Linked DNA regions of Homo sapiens: region 1 is linked to region 2. Evidence: fine-mapped expression QTL. Tissue or cell type: whole blood. Region 2 holds a variant in brackets; the other region holds the start of a gene. All regions are shown on one strand. Distances are between the middles of the regions.

What was found. PIP is the estimated chance that this variant, and not a neighbour inherited with it, causes the effect. A credible set is the group of variants that fine-mapping cannot tell apart.
Region 1: it holds the start of SEPTIN4, and the variant in region 2 is the best candidate, but not a certain one, in a credible set for the expression of SEPTIN4 in whole blood (TOPMed, PIP 0.53).

What each region holds. Positions count from the first base shown.
Region 1 is chr17:58,541,265-58,546,642 of GRCh38, reverse strand. SEPTIN4 (septin 4) reads left to right here and starts at 2,315. Exons shown (of 14, transcript NM_001368771.2): 1 at 2,315-4,017; 2 at 4,677-4,721. The coding sequence starts at 2,457. It overlaps SEPTIN4-AS1 (SEPTIN4 antisense RNA 1), which reads right to left. Exons shown (of 5, transcript NR_110810.1): 3 at 3,045-3,186; 4 at 1,972-2,107.
Region 2 is chr17:59,053,586-59,058,963 of GRCh38, reverse strand. TRIM37 (tripartite motif containing 37) reads left to right here. Exons shown (of 24, transcript NM_015294.6): 13 at 1,910-2,089. Among named protein-coding and RNA genes, the nearest start is that of TRIM37, 51 kb to the left of the region's middle. The variant A/G (reference allele first, on the strand shown) is at 2,297.

The DNA.
Region 1 (5,378 bases), 510 kb after region 2:
GATTAATTAGAAATTACATCATAGATACAGATTTATTGACAGAAAGGTATTCATAACATGTTATGGAATAATGCTAGTACTAGGATGCTGGGAAGTTTATAATAAGACTATGTAAATTTATAATTAAATGTCTACATAGTAAATGCATAGAAAGAAATGTGGAAAGATGCTTATTAAAATAGTAACGGGGTCCTCTTAGGTGATTTCAACTTTTTATAATTATTTGTAAAACTGTTTTCTAATTTTTTAAAATATTTATTTATTTATTTGCTGGAGATGGGATCTCACCATGTTGCCCAGGCTGGTCTCGAACTCTTGAGCTAAAGTGATCTGCCCACCTCAGTTTCCCAAAGTGTTGGGATTACAGGCTGGGCCACCACACCTAGCCAAAGCTGCTTTCATTTTGGGGAATAGAAAGGGTTTAGAAATACTTAAAACTGGCTGGGCACGGTGGCTCACACCTGTAATCCCAGCACTTTAGGAAGCCGAGGTGGGTAGATTATCTGAGGTCAGGAGTTTGACACGAGCCTAACTAACATGGTGAAACCCCATCTCTACTAAAAAAAAGAAAATCAGCTAGGCATGGTGGTATGCGCCTGTAATCCCAGCTACTCGGGAGGCTGAGGCAGGAGAATCACTTGAACCCGGGAGGCAGAGGTTGCAGTGAGCCAAGATCACGCCACTGCACTGCAGCCTGGGCAACAGCCTGGGCACAGTTTATTTGAAACTCCATCTCAAATAAAAAAAAAAAAAGAAAAATGAAGCTGACCATCCTATAATCTCAATGACCCTTCAGAGTTCATAATAGAATTTTGGATATGGTAGAGTCTATGTCTAAAAGAGAGAATGAGAGAAAGAGCATGTGAAAGGGAGAGAAAGGTGACAGAGTCTCCTCCAAAATGGTCATCCAAATTGGAAAGTCACTTTTCAAGAGAGAACCGGAGTCCGGCTGATTGGATAGCTGACAGGATCATGAGAAAGGACATTAACATTTGTTGTGTGACACCCATGTACCAGGCAGTGGTTTCCAGGTGAAGAAACCAAGTCCCAGGGAAGGCAGGTAATTTCTCCTAGGTACACCTGTAGTCATTTATGATGGAAACCAATGATTAACTCCAAATTCCTTCTTTCTTTCTTTCTTTCTTTTTTTTTTTTTTTTTTGAGATGGAGTCTTGCTCTGTCACCCAGCCTGGAGTGCAGTGGCACGATCTCAGCTCACTGCAGCCTCCGCCTCCCAGGTTCCAGCGATTCTCGTGCCTCAGCCTCACGGGTAGCTGGGATTACAGGCACGCACCACCACGCCTGGCTAATATTTGTATTTTTAGTAGAGATGGGGTTTCACCATGTTGGCCAGGCTGGTCTCAAACTCCTGACCTCAGGTGATCCACCCGCCTCAGCCTCCCAAAGTGCTGGGATTACAGGTGTGAGCCACTGCACCCAGCCCAAATCCCTTTTATTTTGTTTTTATTTATATATATTTTTTGAGATGGAGTTTTGCTCTTGTCACCCAGGCTGGAGTAAAGTGGCACAATCTCAGCTCACTGCAACCTCCAACTCCCGGGTTCAAGCGATTCTCCTGCCTCAGCCTCCTGAGTAGCTGGGATTATAGGTGCCTGCCACTATGCCTGGCTAATTTTTTTGTATTTTTAGTAAAGACGGGGTTTTATCATGCTGGCCATGCTGGCCTCAAACTCCTGACCTCAGGCAATCCACCCGCCTCGGTCTCCCAAAGTGCTGGGATTACAGGCGTGAGCCACCGCACATGGCAAATCCCTTTTATTAATAAAACACTAAACTCTCCTGGAGCAAGAATGTGAGAATTTTATTATTTGAGCAACCTGGATTTTTACCCCAGGAGCAATGAAACAATCCATGAGACCTGGAAAAAGCTGAAGCTCTCTTTTTTTTTTTTTTTTTAACTTGTATACAGTACAGTTTCAAACAAAATTGGGGCAACTTTGTACTTCGTACCTTATTAAAACTGGGGCGAACACAGCGTGTTTGGTTTGATCTTGTCTTCATAGGATCTTCTGGCTGATTCCTTCTCTGGATGAGTCCTGAGAATTTCTAGAATCTCGGGAGAGTAAAGGAGGGTCTGGAGCCTTCTCTATGTACAAGGAAATCCCAGTTTTGTTAAAAACTTGCCAAAGGCTTGGTGATATAACTCCAAAGACAAATCCACAGATTCCTTTCAGGTACTTCTTTGGGATTCTGTGAAGAATTGTGGCTGTACACTAGGATGTTTAATAGGAAGGAAGCTCCTTCCTTTATGACATCACCAGACAGAGAGGTAGCTAAGGGGATTATTTGAGACACTCTTAGAACAACAGCCACTTTTGTGGGAGCCCAAGAAACAGCAGCTTTAAAACAGGGTAAATATTCAGGCATCATTAGGATCCTGAATACAAGCCAGCCAGTAAAATACGGGATCTACTCAGAAGGGCACAATCTATCAGATGGTCAAGACAAATAAACCTGGGGCCAAGGTAGCGGTTTCAGCACAGAGAGGGTCTGAGGTTACTACTAACACATCCCCTCAGCAGGGACATGGGTACGTTCTTGCCTCAAGCCATCGAAGTGCTGCAGTCTCCCTGAACCCTTCCCACCGAAGATCAGAAGCTGCACATCCCACCACTCCCCATTCAGCATCAGACTACCCTCGATCTGTCTCCCTCCAGTCAGGACCTGGACACTATGCAGTACCCACTCCTCGGGGACCCGAGACTGGACCAAGAACAGAATCATCCCGCCATTCCTCTCCCCATCTAAAGAGCCAGAAGACTCAGACACTGGCTTCCCATGCTTCAAGCAGACAATGGAAAGTTAGTCCACCCAGAGAGGAAGCAGCACGAAGAGGCAGTGAGAGCAAGTCAGGGCGCGAGGTCGGCCATCATGCTTCATCAATCCCAGATGCCAAATCTACTCATCAGTTGAGTTTTCAAGACCAGAAGAATAACTTACAATCACAAATCTTAGAAGATGACCCACCATCCAAGGTCCAGAACCCCCAAGGAGTCAGAGTTCCCCGTAGGATTTTGTCTTACCCAAAGGATGAAGCAGTACAAACTGAGCCCATCCAAAGAATTACGACTACTAGTGAGATCAGATCTCCAAGGAGTCCCTCTCTCCTAGAGCACGGAAGCAGCTGTGTCTCTGCAGACTATCAGACAGCCCAGAGAAGGGTCCCTGTAGAAGAATCAGAAACAGGTCCTTACGGTCCAATTCCTTCAAAACCCAAGGCCTTGTATAGGAATATGAACTTGGACTCATTGCTCAAACTCTCTGTCCTTAAAGATTCTGATGGTGTACACCGAGTTTCTGCACGGGTAGACCCTGAGTCTCTTCATAAGTATTCTGCCTATCCTGAAACCAAGCCCTCCGCAAAGGTCTTAGTATCATCACAGGTGGAGTCCAACGTGAGGACCCCAATCCGAGGAAACAGCGAGGTTGGCCGCAGGGTCACCATCTCCCCAGGGGTACAGTCAGTAGAGCCAACTCACCATGTGACAGTTCCATCAGTGTCTGAGGGCTCCCACAAGTCATCCATGTTTGTTACTCCAGAGCCCATCTATAAACAGCAAACCCAAAAACCCCCAGAAATTACTTACATGTCCCAAGGACCTACACCCAGGTATCCAGAACTCTCGCAAAAGCCCTCCATCCATGCAGAACTGGAACTGACCCCTAGGCCCTTGCCTCCTCGGTCCTTACCTAGGTACGGACCTGACTCCTCATGGTGGCCCTTGCTGAATCCTGAAGTTGAAACACCCCAAAGCCAGCTGACAACACCGGATTTTGAGCCTAAGTGCTCTCCTTCCCTAGATCTTTTATTGTCCGGTTTTAAAATAGACTCTAGCCCTTTCTGTGAGGATCTGAAGTTCCAGAGAGAGAAGGCAAGCCTATCACCACCATCACCACCAAAGGAGTTTCCAAGTTGGGCACCACTGAGTGAAGTGCCACAGACCCCCAAGCACACCTGCAAACAACCCATTCAAAGGTTTACTGCTTTCTTCCTGGGTATGTGAAGAAGCAGACTGCCCAGGTGCAGCCCCAATTTAGTGAGATGGGATGTTGGGGTGGGCAGGAAAGACCACCTCTTCATTCTGGGCCTAAGGGCTGCTCTCCTGCCAGTGCCAAAGCTAGTCCTATCCTTGAGCCTATTGCTCCATTCCTTCCCTGCCAGCTTCTCTGTGCTCCAAGCTAATGACATTGATGATGGATGCTTGGGCCGGGCGACAGGCATTGACTCCTCCAGGCAACACTGCTTACCTTTTTAATTGAAGGTAGTAGAGAGGGGCTTGCAGGGTTGAAAGCTGCTTCCTGAGTGGGGATGAAGAACTGAGCTGGGGTGAGGGCTGGCAAGGGCTGTTAAATAGAATAAGGGCCTCAGGTAAATACTCTGGCTACAAAGTGGAGAGGGTGGGATGCAGATGAGCTGGGATTCCAGGAGGGGAAAGGCATTCACAGTGGCACAGAGAGAGGGTGTAAAAAAGAGAAAGGGAGAGTGGGAATACGATATATAGTCCTAGGCTGGAGGAGCTTCTTGGAGAGGACCAAGGGCTGAGGGCACCTTTGAGTGGAGAAATGTGGAGCTAGAAAGGGAGCTGCAAGTAGTGGAGAGTGGGATGTGCATCCCACAGAGAGAAGAAAAGCAACCATCTCTCTGTTACTTTCAGATGTCTCTGAGGAAATGTACAATCGTGTCATCTGGTGGCTAAAAGGTCTGTGCTTTTCCCTCCTATGGGCCCACTGTGGGAGCTTGGGGGATGGGAGGACAGGTGAGGAGTGGCATCTATGTATCTACAGAGCTGGGTCGTTTAGGAGATAAATGCTGGGATTTTGACCTGAAGAAGCAGAGGAACTTCTCATCTTGCTGAAAATTTCACCATTAGAGTCATTTCTTTGGGGCTTGGAACCTTTTCCATTTTCAAGAGTCTCCTTTTAACAGGAAGTTACTTCTGGAATGGAGAATAATTTAAGCCTCATGGCCTTTTCAGCTTAGTTGGTCATCTATCACATGATTTTAAAAAATACACCAAAGCAAACCGCCTGCTTCACAGTCTTGCTCAGAGTTGACTTCACGCTAATTCAGGCTGGGGGCTCTTCTCATGTGTTTCTCTGGTTCCTCAGAACCCTCCTCATGCCCCAAGTTTACCACCTGGGGTACTTATTGGTGCTGCCCAGGCAAGATCTTCAGAGATGTCTGGGCCTCCCCCTTGAGGCCATCAGTGTGTCTTGCAGCTCTAGAATCCTTAAGAGAAGTGTCCCCAGGCCTTGTGACCCTCCTCTCCCTTTATACTCTTGGCCTCTCTGGGGGCAGGGGAGGGTGGGGACAAGACCTCAAGGAGTAAATCTTGGCAGCAGGGACTTCTTGCTGT
Region 2 (5,378 bases):
GGCTATCTTCTTTGTCTTTTTGTAAACCTGAAAATTTTACAAGATTGGATATATAAATTAGAATATATTGGCTTTCCCAATGTATACTTCTTTTCTTTTTGAGACAGGGTCTTGCTGTGTCACTGAGGCTGGAGCACAGTGGCACAATTATGGCTCACTGCAGCCTCAACCTCCTGGGCCCAGGTGATCCTCCTGCCTCAGTCTCCCAAGTAGCTGGGACTACAGGAATGCACTACCGTACCCAGCTAATTTTTTTGTTTTTTGTTTTTATGGAGACGGGGTTTCGCCATGTTGCCCAGGCTGGTCTCAGACTCCTGGGCTCAGGCGATCTGCCCACCTCGGTCTCTTAAAGTGCTGGGATTACAGGTGTTAGCCACTGTGTCCAGCTTACTTATTTTCTTTTTCCTTTTTCTTTTCTTTTTAACTTTTATTTTAGGTTTGGTGTTACGTATGAAGGTTTGTTACATAGGTAAACTCATGTCATGGGGGTTCATTGTACAGATTATTTCATCACCCAGGAATTAAGCCCAGTACCCAATAGTTATCTTTTCTGCTCCTCTCCTTTTTCCCACCCTCTGCCCTCAAGCATACCCCAGTGTCTGTTGTTTCCTTCTTTGTGTTCATAAGTTCTCATCATTTAGCTCCCACAATATAAGTGAGAACACGTGGTATTTGGTTTTCTGTTCCTGTGTTAGTTTGCTGAGGATAATAGCCTCCAGCTCCATCCATCCATGTTGCACAAAAAACATAATCTCGTTCTTTTTTATGGCTGCATACTTATTTTCTATTAGGAAATTTTATAGCCTTTGATTTTCTGAATACACAATAATTTGCTTTCTTATCACTTGTACTGGCAAAATACAGTAGAGTATTTCAAAATTTATATTTTAAAATTGCAAGGTGATAAACCTCAAAGGATAATAGAAATAACAATATTTATGAGGAAACATATGTAGTGAATATATGGAAAAAATATTGCATTAGTAAAACAAAAGCAACTTTGAATTACTTGTTTATTCAAAATTTATTTATTTTTTGAGGTGTTGTTTTATACCTGATATATCGGTAAACATCTTTACGAGGAAAAAAGGACCTATTGCCATTCATGTTTTGGTGGTTCGTTCAAAATACTGCTGTTTTGGCTGGGCGCAGTGGCTCACACCCGTAATCCCAGCCCTTTGGGAGGTCAAGGAGGGTGGATCATCTGAGGTCAAGAGTTTGATACTAGCCTGTCCAACATTATGAAACCCTGTCTCTACTAAAAATACAAAAAATTAGCTGGGCATGGTGGTGTGCACTTGTAATCTCAGCTACTTGGGAGGCTGAGGCAGCAGAATCACTTGAACTGGGGGGCAGAGGTTGCAGTGAGCTGAGACCCCGCCACTGCCCTCTAGCCTGGGCTACAGAGTGAGACTCTATCTCAAAAAAGCAAACAAAAAAATACTGCTCTTTTTCTGGCCGGGTGTGGTGGCTCACGCCTGCAATCCCAGCACACTGGGAGGCCAAGGTGGGTGGATCACCTGAGGTCAGGAGTTCAAGACCAGCCTGGCCAACATGAACCCCCGTCTCCACTAAAAATACAAAATTAGCTAAGCATGGTACACGCCTGTAATCTCAGCTACTCTGTAGGCCGAGGCAGGAGAATCACTTGAACCTGGAGTCAGAGGATGCAGTGAGCTGAAATTGCACCATTGCACTCCAGCCTGGGCAACAAGAGTGAAACTCCATCTTAAATAAATAAAAAAACCCCAAAATACTGCTGTTTTTATAAATGATAAAAGAAATGTAACTGCGTATATCAATAAGGTTTCTTCTCAGGTAATTACTTAGTGACCTTAATGTTTAGATGAGTTTGTTTTTTATTCTTACTTTACTAACTGTATAGTAATGGTCTGTTTTTCAATTTTAGATATGAATATCGTGTAGAGATGGTTCACCAGTCCTGTAATGATCCTACAAAAAATATCATTCGAGAATTTGCATCTGACTTTGAAGTTGGAGAATGCTGGGGCTATAATAGATTTTTCCGTTTGGACTTACTCGCAAATGAAGGATACTTGAATCCACAAAATGATACAGTGATTTTAAGGTAACAGGAAAAATTTGATGTTGTGGTTTTTATTGTGGGGAAATAATATCATCAGAACTATATTTCAAAGATCATTTGGTTAACAAAGATGAATATTGAAATTCATACTAACTATAACCTTATCACCTTTTTTTTTTTTTTTTTTTTTTTTTTTTTTTGGAGACATAGTCTCGCTCTGTCGCCCTGGCGCGATCTCGGCTCACTACA[A/G]GCTCCGCCTCCCGGGTTCACGCCATTCTCCTGCCTCAGCCTCCCGAGTAGCTGGGACTACAGGCGCCCGCCACCACGCCTGGCTAATTTTTTACTATTTTTAGTAGAGACGGGGTTTCACTGTTTTAGCCAGGATGGTCTCGATCTCCTGACCTCGTGATCCGCCCGCCTCGGCCTCCCAAAGTGCTGGGATTACAGGCGTGAGCCACCGTGCCCGGCCCCTTATCACTTTCTTAACTGTTTTATTTAAGTGGATAATAATCAAAAATTTGTAGTCAAAAAGTCAAACTTTTTTTGACATCTAGTTAGCAATTCCATTAAAGATAAGCTGGGTGCAGTGGTGCGCCGGTGTTTCCATCTACTATGGAGGCTAAGATGGGAGGACGGCTTGGGCCCAGGAGTTTGAGACCAGCTTAGGAAACATTATGAGACCCCCCATCTTTTTAAAAAGAAAAAAAAAAGGGGGTGGGTGGGAAACTACAACTTCCAGTAAGTATAGTAATGTTCCATTTGTCTGTTGAACTTCTAGTGACCTCACCATTTGGAAATCTAAGAATAGTGAGGGATAAAGTGCTGATTTTTTTCACTTCACAGTGCATATTATATTTGAGTGACTGGTTTTACAACTTAATTTTATAAAGCAACTATCAGTTCTTTGTCAATAACAGCAAATTAAAAGTAGAAGAGTCAAGATGAAAGTTGACGAAAACCAGCAATTTTCTACTTTTTTCTTAAACTTTTATTTTAGGTTCAGGGGTACATGTGTAGGTTTGTTATACAGGTAAACTCACATCATGGTGATTTGGTGTACGGATTATTTCATCACCCAGATACTAAGCCTAGTACCCAATAGTTATTTTTTCTTATCCTCTCCCTCCTCCCACCCTCCACCCTCAAGTAGGCCCCAGTGTCTGTTGTTGTTACCCCTCGTTATATCCTTGAGTTCTCATCATTTAGCTTTTTTTTTTTTTTTTTTTTTTTTGAGATGGAGTCTCCCTCTGTCGCCCAGAGGCGACATATCGGCTCACTGCAAGCTCTGCCTCCCGGGTTCACACCATTCTCCTGCCTCAGCCTCCCAAGTAGCTGGGACTACAGGTGCCTGCCACTGCATCTGGCTAATTTTGTTTTTGTATTTTTAGTAGAGATGGGGTTCCACCGTGTTAGCCAGGATGGTCTCGATCTCCTGACCTCTTGAGCCTCCTGCCTCAGCCTCCAAAGTGCTGGGATTACAGGCCTGAGCCACTGCGCCCGGCCCATTTAGCTCTTAAATAATAAGTGAGAACATGTGGTATTTGCGAAAACCATCAATTTTTTTTTTTTTTTTTTTTTTTTTTTGAGACAGAGTTTCTAGTTGCCCAGGCTGGAGCGCAATGGCGCGATCTTGGCTCCCTGCAACCTTTGCCTCCCAGGTTCAAGCGATTCTCCTGCCTCAGCCTCCCGAGTAGATGGGATTGCAGGCACGCGCCACCATGCCTGGCTAATTTTGTACTTTTAGTAGAGATGGGGTTTCTCCGTGTTGATCAGGCTGGTTTCTAACTCCCGACCTCAGGTGATCCACCCACTTCGGCCTCCCATAGTGCTGGGATTATAGGCATGAGCCACCACGTCTGGCCAAAACCATCAATTTTTATTGTTGATTGTTGGTGTAGTATTTACAAGAAAGGATAGAACGTAAATACTGACTCAAACAACAGCCCTATTTAGCCAGGTGTGGTGGCTCACGCCTGTAATCCCAGCACTTTGGGAGGCTGAGGCAGGCAGATCACTTGGGCTCAGGAGTTTGAGAGCAGCCTGGCCAATATGGTGAAATCCTATCTCTACTAAAAATACAAAAATTAGCCGGGCTGTGGTGGCACGCGCCTGTAATCCCAGCTACTCAGGAGGCCAAGGCAGGAGAATCGCTTGAATCCGGCAGGTGGAGGTTGCAGTGAACCGAGATTATGCCACTGCACCCCAGCCTGGGCGACATAGCAAGACCCTATCTCAAAAATAATAATAAAGTAAATAAAAACAACAGCCCTGTTTAACGTGGGGTAGTCTTTACAGGTCAGAAGTTTTTGGGCATTGGCTGGGTGCCGTGGCTCACGCCTGTAATCCCAGCACTTTGGGAGGCTGAGGTGGGTGGATCACCTGAGGTCAGGAGTTCAAGATCAGCCTGGGCAACATGGTGAAACCCTGTCTCTACTAAAAATACAAAAATTAGCTGGGCATGGTGGCAGGCACTTGTAATCCCAGCTACTTGGGAAGCTGAGGCAGTTGAATCGCTTGAGTCCGGGAGGCAGATGTTGCAGTGAGCCGAGATTTCACCAGTGCACTCCAGCCTGGGCGACAAGAGTGAAACTCCATCTTAAAAAAACAAAAAACAAACAAAAAAAGGTTTTTGGGTATCATTACATGATGTTATAATTTGATGATCAAAATAAGAACTTGAATATTTAAAAAAGATTAAAATATGTTCTGAACTGAGAAGTTTCAGAGTATTTAACAGTTTAAAAAGTTCTCATCACAACAATTTTAAACATTTTTTTCTTGAGAGTGATTTAATGTACTCCTGAATTTCCCTTATTCGGAGCTCTTTGTTCTTGAGCATACTGGACAGATGAGTTGCTATCATATCAGCATTTACTCTTATGTGTTTTCCGTAGCTTTTCTGGAAGTATAAAGAAGTTTAACAAGGGATATGATTTTCAGTGTAGGGAAAAAGATATGTTTTTGTTATTGTTTTGTTTTGTTTAGAGTCAGTGTCTTGCTATATTGCCCAGTCTAGTCTAGAATTCTCGGGCTCAAGTGATCCTCCTGTCTCAACTTCCCAAGTAGGTAGGATTACAGGTGCATGCCACGGTGCCTGGAATCATGTTTTTTGAGGGGAGGGATTATTTTAGTTTTCTTCGTATAGCTTTTCAGACTTTTGGGGTTTAACTATTCACCAAGAGAAATAATTTATTGCTATTTCATGCTTCAGCCATAGAGAGAATTACAAAATTATTCAAACATCAATTTTACCAACCTATAAAAGACCCATTTTCTTATAGCCTTGATTTCATCCTTATTAGCGTTACTTATTAGTACAGAAACAAATTCC